Regions from separate parts of the Homo sapiens genome. Here region 1 is linked to region 2. The links come from fine-mapping of genetic effects on gene expression. A gene starts in region 2. The other region holds a variant in brackets. All regions are shown on one strand. Distances are from middle to middle.

The links.
Region 1: its variant is fine-mapped to the expression of ETDC in subcutaneous fat (GTEx, PIP above 0.99).

Annotation. Positions count from the first base shown.
Region 1 is chrX:136,169,457-136,173,852 of GRCh38, forward strand. It overlaps a transcript of FHL1 not described here. Among named protein-coding and RNA genes, the nearest start is that of FHL1, 25 kb to the right of the region's middle. The variant C/T (reference allele first, on the strand shown) is at 1,712.
Region 2 is chrX:135,307,288-135,311,683 of GRCh38, forward strand. It overlaps ETDC (embryonic testis differentiation homolog C), which reads left to right and starts at 2,193. Exons shown (of 1, transcript NM_001358449.1): 1 at 2,193-2,372. The coding sequence starts at 2,193. The coding sequence ends at 2,372. All of the region lies in intron 1 of ZNF75D (zinc finger protein 75D), which reads right to left.

The DNA of each region.
Region 1 (4,396 bases), 860 kb after region 2:
ATTCTGGCTGGATCAGAGCCCTCCTGTGGCAAAATATTCTAAAGATGTTAAAAGAGAGAGAGAGAAAAAAAAAGGCTCAACTAATAAATCTATTCTAAACGACTGAGTCATTTGTTTTGATTACCCGGGTGATTGCCAAATGTTAATTTAAAACTGAAATAGGCCATGAGCTCACTCCCCTAACAATGCTGAGTGTTTGAGCTAATACGGCTTGATAATGAGGGAGCCAGATCCACTGCCAGTGCTCATGTTATATGATAAACAGACATTTGGAGAAGTATGCAGAACATCTTGGCAGTTTTCCTTTAACTCTAAGGGTTGTAAATACAAAGTAGAATGTGTTACCATGAGCCATTTCATAGGAAGTTGACTTTATTTTTTTAGAATTCAGAACTTTGCTTCTAAAAAGGTAACTTTGCCTCTTGATTCTCATTTTTTTCCCTAACTTAGGCACCTTGGAAGTTGTTTTCAACCATATCCAGCCTTTGCCGAATACATCCTATCTGCCACACATCCAGCGTGAGGTAAGTTTTACTAATTGCCACAAATTCTTACACTGATCTCCAACCTTCTAAGTTGTGGTATTAGGGGCGGCATTGTACAAAGGGCTTTATTTGTACCAGGAGGTTTCAGAAGGTTCATTTTAATTGACTCAACCAATGTCACTGCTTACCCTAAATATTAGCTCTCGGGGGCAATGTCTTTTCAAGGGAAAATCTCATTTGCTTTCAACTTGGGCATATGAAAAGGGAATTTGCCAGGCACAACAGAACTATTTGAATGTCTGCTTTAAAGTAAAGATCTGCTCATGTCGTTGCACGAACAGTAGGGAGCAGGAAAGCTGCATGGAGCAAATGCTGGGATGGGACAGAGGAGACTCCTGCTGCCAGCCACGAGAAGGTTAGGCTGACCTGATCAGCTATTAGGAATCTTTCTCCCTGGGTGGAAGGAGCCAAGGTGCAGGACTGGCATTGCAAAATCTGGTGATAGAAGGCCAAAGAGTGCTTCTGCTCGGTGACATTAATAGGGTCCAGGAGATTTTCTTCTGATTTGCCCTCAAGTTCAGAACAACCTGTGGGAAGCCAGTGTAAGAATGCTTATACTGGATAAGCGTTCTCTGTCCTCTTCATTTAGCCACAGTGGCTTGTTTATACTCTGTGATGACTCAGGGTTCCTCAATTTTCTCTTTGAGAGAGGGACATTGACCTTTGAAAATAATGAAGGAATCTAAGAGAAGGCTCATCCAGGCACGATACAGTAATGGTCCCTCCTTTTTGGTGCCCCGGTCTCTGTGCGCTCACAAGAGGGAATGTAACCTTTGCCAGCACCATACCTGTCAGGCTTTGCCATTTCATCCCTCAAAAGGTTGCTGCGTTTTTGCCTTCACCTTCACCCTGCCCACCCCTGCATGCAGCCACATGGTCAGTGTAGGTACTTAGATTTCAGTTAGGGTACATGCTCAGCAGGTGACAAGAATTGCCTTTGTTATGTCTACTTGCTACAGAATTCTCCCCAGGTTTTAAAATATATATCTTCAAATACCTAAATGTATTAAACCTTAAAGAGTAAAAAGCATAGGACAAACTTTTAGAAATGCTAAACCTGAATTTTATCCATTTCATCAATTATGGTGGTAGTCGGAAGTCCTTCCAAGGCCCTCGGGCTTGAAGCAAGCTCGGTGATACAAGCTTTCAGCAGCTTCCCTCTGCTG[C/T]TGGAGATGGAATCTTCATTTCTGGGTCTAAATCCTGCCATAGCTCTCATTCATAGCCTTTACCTATAATGGTTGTTTTCAAACTTAAAAAAAATGATAGAAACCTATCTTCAAAAAATACAAATCTTTAGATCTAACCCCAATAGAGAAAACCAAAGCTGAACTGCTTTGGCTCAAGTAGGAGGCTGTGACTCTCTGTCACCCTCCTCTAAGGGTGAACCCTATTGAAAGAGCAGAGATTTTAGCTCTGTGCCCTTTCCCAGCTCTTATTTTTATTTTCCCACAGAAGAGGCTAGATTCTTTAAGGAGATATAAAGAAGGGAGAGAGAAAGATATAAAGATTCTTTAAGGAGATACAAAGACATCCTCTCATCAGCTGGAAATGCCAGCTAGGTGAGACCTGACTATGCATATGCATTGTTTGCCCTTAGTAATTCCATAGCAATCTGCAAATTCAATCAGCTTCATCAGCAGAAAACTTTGATAGAAACCATGTGTAAAAGGGCTGTGTTCTTAAAGTGGAACATTTAAATCGAAGTTTTTCAAGCACACATTTCAAGTGGTTTTATGATACCAAGCACACCCCAGTGACATCTTTACATTGACCAAAACTTGGTATCCTTGGGTTTTCTTTTAAAGCACTGAGTTTCTCAGGTGTGTCAGTTGAATAGAATCTGCTAAATTCTGTTTTTTTTATTTTTTTAAATTTTTTATTGATTTATTTTTTTTTATGGAGTCTTGCTTTGTCGCTCAGGCTGGAGTGCAGTGGTGCAAGTGCAGTGGTGCGATCTGGCTCAGTGCAACCTCCGTCTCCCAGGTTCAAGCAATTCTCCTGCCTCAGCCTCCCAAATACCTGGGATTACAAGCGTCTCTACATCAACATGCCTGGCTAATTTTTGTAATTTTAGTAGAGACAGGGTTTCATCATGTTGGCTAGGCTGGTCTCAAACTCCTGGCCTCAAGCGATCCGCCCTCCTTGGCCTCCCAAAGTGCTGGGATTACAGGCGTGAGCCACTGCGCCCGGCCAAATCTGTTAAATTCTGTTTCCATGTAACAGAAATATATAGGATTACACAACTGCATCTGGTGTTCTTTCTTCCTTTCTTTTATTCATTCATTCAGCCCTACTATGGGCCAGGGCAGGAATGTAGTGGTGAGCACAAAAACAACAAAAAAATACCTTTTGGGTTTGATATTCTTCAAGGGTGGGACATGCCTAGATTATTTTCTCTTTTGCAGACAAGGAAACTGAAAATTGCTTTGCTTTTCTCAATTACATTGCCCAGTATTCAGTAGACAGGTATGGATGCAGGGGTACAGTTCCAAGTCCCCATCTCTACTCTATTCTTTGAGCCTATGATTTATGCCACTTCCATATAAGCATGTGCAAATAAAGTATTCAGTAATTGCCATGGATGCAGCTGTCCCTGGGACCCGAAGGCCCTAAAATGAAAATAAATGTAAACTGTGCGTTTCACACTCTATTTTTAAAACGTTTGTTTGGAATAATTGAATAGTTTAGTAAAATGGGCTTTGCTGTTTCCACATGAGGATATCTTGTTCTTTTATTTTTTATTTTTTTTGAGACGGAGTCTCACTCTGTCGCCCAGGCTGGAGTGCAGTGGTGCAATCTCGGCTCACTGCAATCTGTACCTCCCAGGTTCAAGCGATTCTCCTGCCTCAGCCTCCCAAGTAGCTGGGATTACAGATGCGTGCCACCATGCCTAGCTAATTTTTGTATTTTTAGTGGAGACGGGGTTTCACCATGTTGGCCAGGCTGGTCTCGAACTCCTTACCTCAAGTGATCCGCCTGCTTTGGCCTCCCAAAGTGCTGGGATTACAGGCGTGAGCCACCATGCCCGGCCTATTTTGTTCTTTTAAGTGATGGTGTGTCCCCTTTTAATACAGTATTTATCATAGATAAACTTTATTATTCAGAAACTTAGAATTATTCCATTTGGCTGCCTTTTAGTTTACAGAATTATTTGGAACACAAGCTTGAACACATAATTCTTAACACATACGTGAACTGGGCTAAATTTGAGTATTTGTACCATAGTAGTGACAATATTGTTAATTAAACATGTGTTTCACATGTAGGAGATATTTGTATCACTGACATATGGTCATTTTCATTATTGATTTGGCAGTTTTTTAATATTCACAAAACACAAAATTTTGAAATACAGTAGTCAAAGTGATTTGATCTGTGCCATTTGTATTGATGTAACCTCTCTTCTTGGTGCACTAGCAATAAGAAGGAGAATCAGCACAGATGGGTTACACAGACTTAGAGGATTTGGAAACCATCACTTTAGAGCCAAGGTCTCAAACTGATGGGCTGGATCTGGCACACAGAGGTGTTCTTTTAAAATTTTAATTGCCAGCATTTAAAAATTGAAAGGTTTCATATTTTTTGAAGTCCAAATTTTTCAGCTTCTCTTGAAATATCAGAAGATCTGGCAATATTGAGCCCTCACTCCTGTTTGGCTACACTAGGCTGGAGCCAAATGGCTGCTGTTTCTTTTCTTTTTTTTTTTTTTTTTCCTGAGATGGAGTCTCGCTCTGTCACCCAGGCTGGAGTGCAGTGGCGTGATCTCCGCTCATTATAAGCTCTGCCTCCCAGGTTCACGCCATTCTCCTGCCTCAGCCTCCCCAGTAGCTGGGACTATAGGTGCCCGCACC
Region 2 (4,396 bases):
AAGAAAGGGAGTGTGTGACCTGGGTCGCTTTACAGGAACCTCAATTTCCTCAGTTCTTACATAAGATTGAGTGGGCAGCCAGTGTGCAGGCAAGCCACATCTCCTCATAACAGTCATTTTAGTTCCTCATGAGAACCCCACTATAAAAATCACAAAGCCCTGTCCTCACCGTTATCCCTCTGACAGCCTGGAAAATCCATGTCCTGCATATAGACACTACCCACCTGCGTCACACTTTAATGGTAACAATGTAGTTATTCTAGATCAGATACTTGAAAGGGAATATGGCTTGAGACATATGCATATGTCTCAACAAACTAGTCTAGTTTTAGCATAAGATTTTCCAAGGCATTAAAAGCCCACCTGCATCCCAGGTCCACAGAATAAAAGTGTGGAGTTCCACTGCTCTGAGCTTTGGGAGGGGGTCACACAGTTGTGTGAGACACAGCAGTGTTTAACTGCAGTGTTAAATTTCTGCAACTAAACACTCCATTTACATGAACTGTGTATTATAGAGGGAGTAATTGCAGAGTCATGACCAAAACTGGATGCAGAGATTGACAAGCAAATGGGAAATTCAACCTAACACTAATTCCCTGATTGGAACATGGCAGACAAAGTCGCTGATCACTACCCAGGGAACCTGGCAAGATGCAGTGGGTGCTGTAATCTACACAAAGGATAAATTTTAATGAAGGGATTTTGCACAAGCCAGGGACAAGCTCTGAGGCCAGGATAGCTGAATGTCCCATCCAGGAAGGAGACATGTAGATGGCACCCAGCCACAAGATATACCTACTTCCTCTCCCAGCAACTTCCACTTACCCTATTCTGCTCTGAACCAGAAGGAAGCCAGGTGATGGTTGTCAGTATTTGAATCTTGCAGACTGTTGGCATTACGTTCTGAGAGCAGTCGTGAGTAATCATAGTAACCGTGACTTCACTTGGTTCTGAACCAATCAGGCCCTGGGACTCAGGGAAAAAGAGAGAGTGTGCTAAGGAAAGAAGTCATGTTTCCTCTCACTGTTTACTCTCTGGTCCAGGTCTTTCTTCAAAAGAAACCTGAGTGGTCTGACAGGTAAAATATTCTGATATACCAAGATCATAGAGCATCCTTTTGTGCCATAACCTAACTAATCTACCTGATAAACCTCAACCCTGTTTGGTAATGGGGGGGAAGGTATGGGAGAGTCATTTGTTCAAACTGATACAGAGAAACTATAGAGCAGTGGGTAAAAACACAGGCTTCAGATACAGGCTTTTTTCAGTTCCAATCTCACCTTTCTATCACTTGGGCAAGTCCTTTAATCTCTCTTGAGGTCAAAATAGAGAACACAGTTGGCATCCACCCCTAGCCTTGGCATTATGCCAGATTCAAGTATAATACCACTCAGCACTTTTTGGGGTGAGACTGGGTCAGTTATCAGAGGCGAGTACAATCTTTAAATAACTGAGATTATGTTCCCAGGATGGAAACTCAGAAGGATGGGCCTTAGAAACAGAAACTAGGTAGCACCTGAGAATGTCCAGTTTATTTCTTACACAAGGGTTTGGAGTAAGATCCATACCTGCGTCACCAGTGATTTTCAAAGAAGGCAAATCCTATTTGAAGCTAAAGTAACATAAAGAGATTTGGAATGAGGAAACAAATTATAGCAGCCTGTAGGTTGTAGAATGAAGAAATACAGATGTAAAATAATGAATTTTGTTATGGATAGATTTACCAAAGAGACCTACTCTCTCAACTTGCTGCACAAAATGCAGTAGAAGAAAGCCCCTATCCCAAGTACAGGGAAAACTCAGAGGTGAAAAGAAGGCAGCTCTGCAAAACAGCAACATAGAATTGAGTTAAAATTAATGCGAATGTAAGAATTACGTCGACACTTGAGCTATAAGCTAGCACTTTGAGTACAATCTAACAGGTCTGTGTGTGTCAGGTGATGATCAGATTGATACAACAGTGTGTCCTTAATGTCCCGGGTCCCATCAGGCTCCTACACAGCCCCATGTGTGAGACAGATTGAATAAATGATATGGTTGGCATTTCAAATCAGATGATGGCCCAAAGTGTGTGTGGGTGTGTGGCAGTGGGGAAGAGGTCCCCAGATCCACTTGATTACATGGAATTCATCATCTTTTTCAGGCTTCCTTGGTTGTGCTGTTTTACTGAGGTTGTTTGGGGCTGCTGCTTCATGGATAAAGAACTCCCTAAAGCCAGTCCCAGTGAGCCTGCACTGAACATCAAGAAGTCAGGCAAATCCTTCAAATGCAAGAAGCCCACCAAAAATGTGCAGGTCTTTTTAATCAACAGACAACTGGGCAGGAACAGAAGTGACACTGACCTGTCAAAGTGGCTATGGATGCTGCCATAAAGCAACTCCAGGGTGAACATGGCCTTGGACAAAAAGTCATGTGGCTTATGTGCTGAGGCCTGCCCAGAATTTTGAGACATTAATTATAATTAGAACAATAAACTCCTCCCATGTTTGAGCCATTAAAACAGAGTCTGTCATTTCACTCCTTTGGGTTGGATGTGTGTTTGCTGACAGGGCTTACTTGGGTTACACTGGAAGGGGCTTTTGTTCATCCTAACGCACAGTGCAGGGGTGCTCAGACACAGAGCAGAGAGTGAGATCATGCTGCACACCAGATCTCCCCCATCAATCTGAAAAACACTGCGAAGTCGAAGTGATGTAGTACTTGGCATTCAAGGACCAAAGACTCTAATCCCTAGCCATTTTGAAGAGACCACCCTGGTGTTTCTCTCTAAAACCTAATGCCTGTCCTAATGAAAAGACATCGTTTAAGAGCAGACCAACAGCTGGGCCGGGGGTTTGGGACATGTTTCATCATTGCAGATGTCATGTCCACAGAGCCTTCCAGGGGCAACTGCTCTATTCAGTGTCCCCAGGAAAGTGGAATGCCCTGATGGCTTTTTTGTGTCATGTCAAACAAACCTTCAGGCCACAGCCAATCAAAGATAATTAATTTTCCTGAAGTGAAGCCACCCAATAGTCCAACAAGACATATGAGATGGTTCCCATTGAAAAACCTCTGTCCCTAAGAAATATCCTGAGCAAGTCAGATACTCCAAGAAACCTGAAATGGGAACTATGTGCACAATTGGTGACTGAGAAGTGAGAGCTAAAGCTGAAGAGGGGACAGGGAGAGCAAAGAGGTCAGAGCCATGGTGGATATGGGCAAGCTTAAGTTAGGAATAAGATGAAATTAACATAAAAGGAACCATTAAAACCATAACAAATTCCAAGCATTTCTCTTGTCCTTTAACGTAAGCTGCAAAATAAGCCTGCAAGCAGTCCTTCTGTCCCCTCCACCTCTCCTTCCCAATTCCCTGTGCTCTCACAACCTGTCCAGCATTTCCCAAGTCCCCTTCCTGTGTCCCCTCCCCCACCTACATCTAAGGGGCTGTTATTCTCTCTACCCTTAGCCAGGTCTCTTCTGGATCTGTATTAGATAGAAAATTTAACTCCTCTATGTCCATTTAACTCTCCTCCCTGTCCCTGTCAACTTTGCTTTCCCTGCTCTGATTCAGCATTGCCAAAATAGAACCACAAGCCTCTCCTCAGAGGATGCAACTGACTGTAGGTTGGAAGGGGAGGGTTTAGAGGACATCCAGGTAGAGGGGCCTCTTGGGTGCACTCTTGGTGGGAAAGCTGCCTGGATACTCCTCTGTTGGTTACTATTTTGCTGCAGTTCAGGATCAAACAGTGGCTGTACCAGCTGGTAGAGAATCAGTCTTTTTGGTTGAATACCAGGGGATATGCAGCTGATCTGGCTGATAGGGGATGTAGCTGGGTGAGCTTTTCCCACTTGGTAGGGAGCATATCTGATGAGAGCAGGGAAAATCGTGGCTAGGCCTTTGATGCCCTGTGAGGCTCAATTATGCCAAGGCAGCACATGGAATTTCAGGCCTTGTAACACATGGCAGTAGACAAAATCGCTGAGAAGAGTGAATGAACTGAGAAGTGAGCCAGCAAAGCATGGTGAAGAAGGCTGAGACTCTGAGGGTGCAATCAGCAGCTGACAGCTGTAAGGCAGTCAGGAAGGAGAGCTGGGTGTAGACTCTAACCCACAGTGGGAAATGGCCTGATCTTTTAAATTAATTCATTTTTCATTGATAAATAAAAATTGTGTCATGTCCAACATCATGCTTTGAAATGTGTATACATTGTGAAATGGCTAAATTAAGCTAATTATATGCTTATCATTACATTATATGCTTATCATTTTTTTGTGTATGGTGAGAACACTTAAAATCTACTCTTTTATCAGTTTTCAAGAATACAATACAGTTAGTTACTAGCTGTAGTTAACATGTTTAACAACAGATCTGTTGAACTTGTTTCTCCTTTCTAACTGAAATTTTGTATTCTTT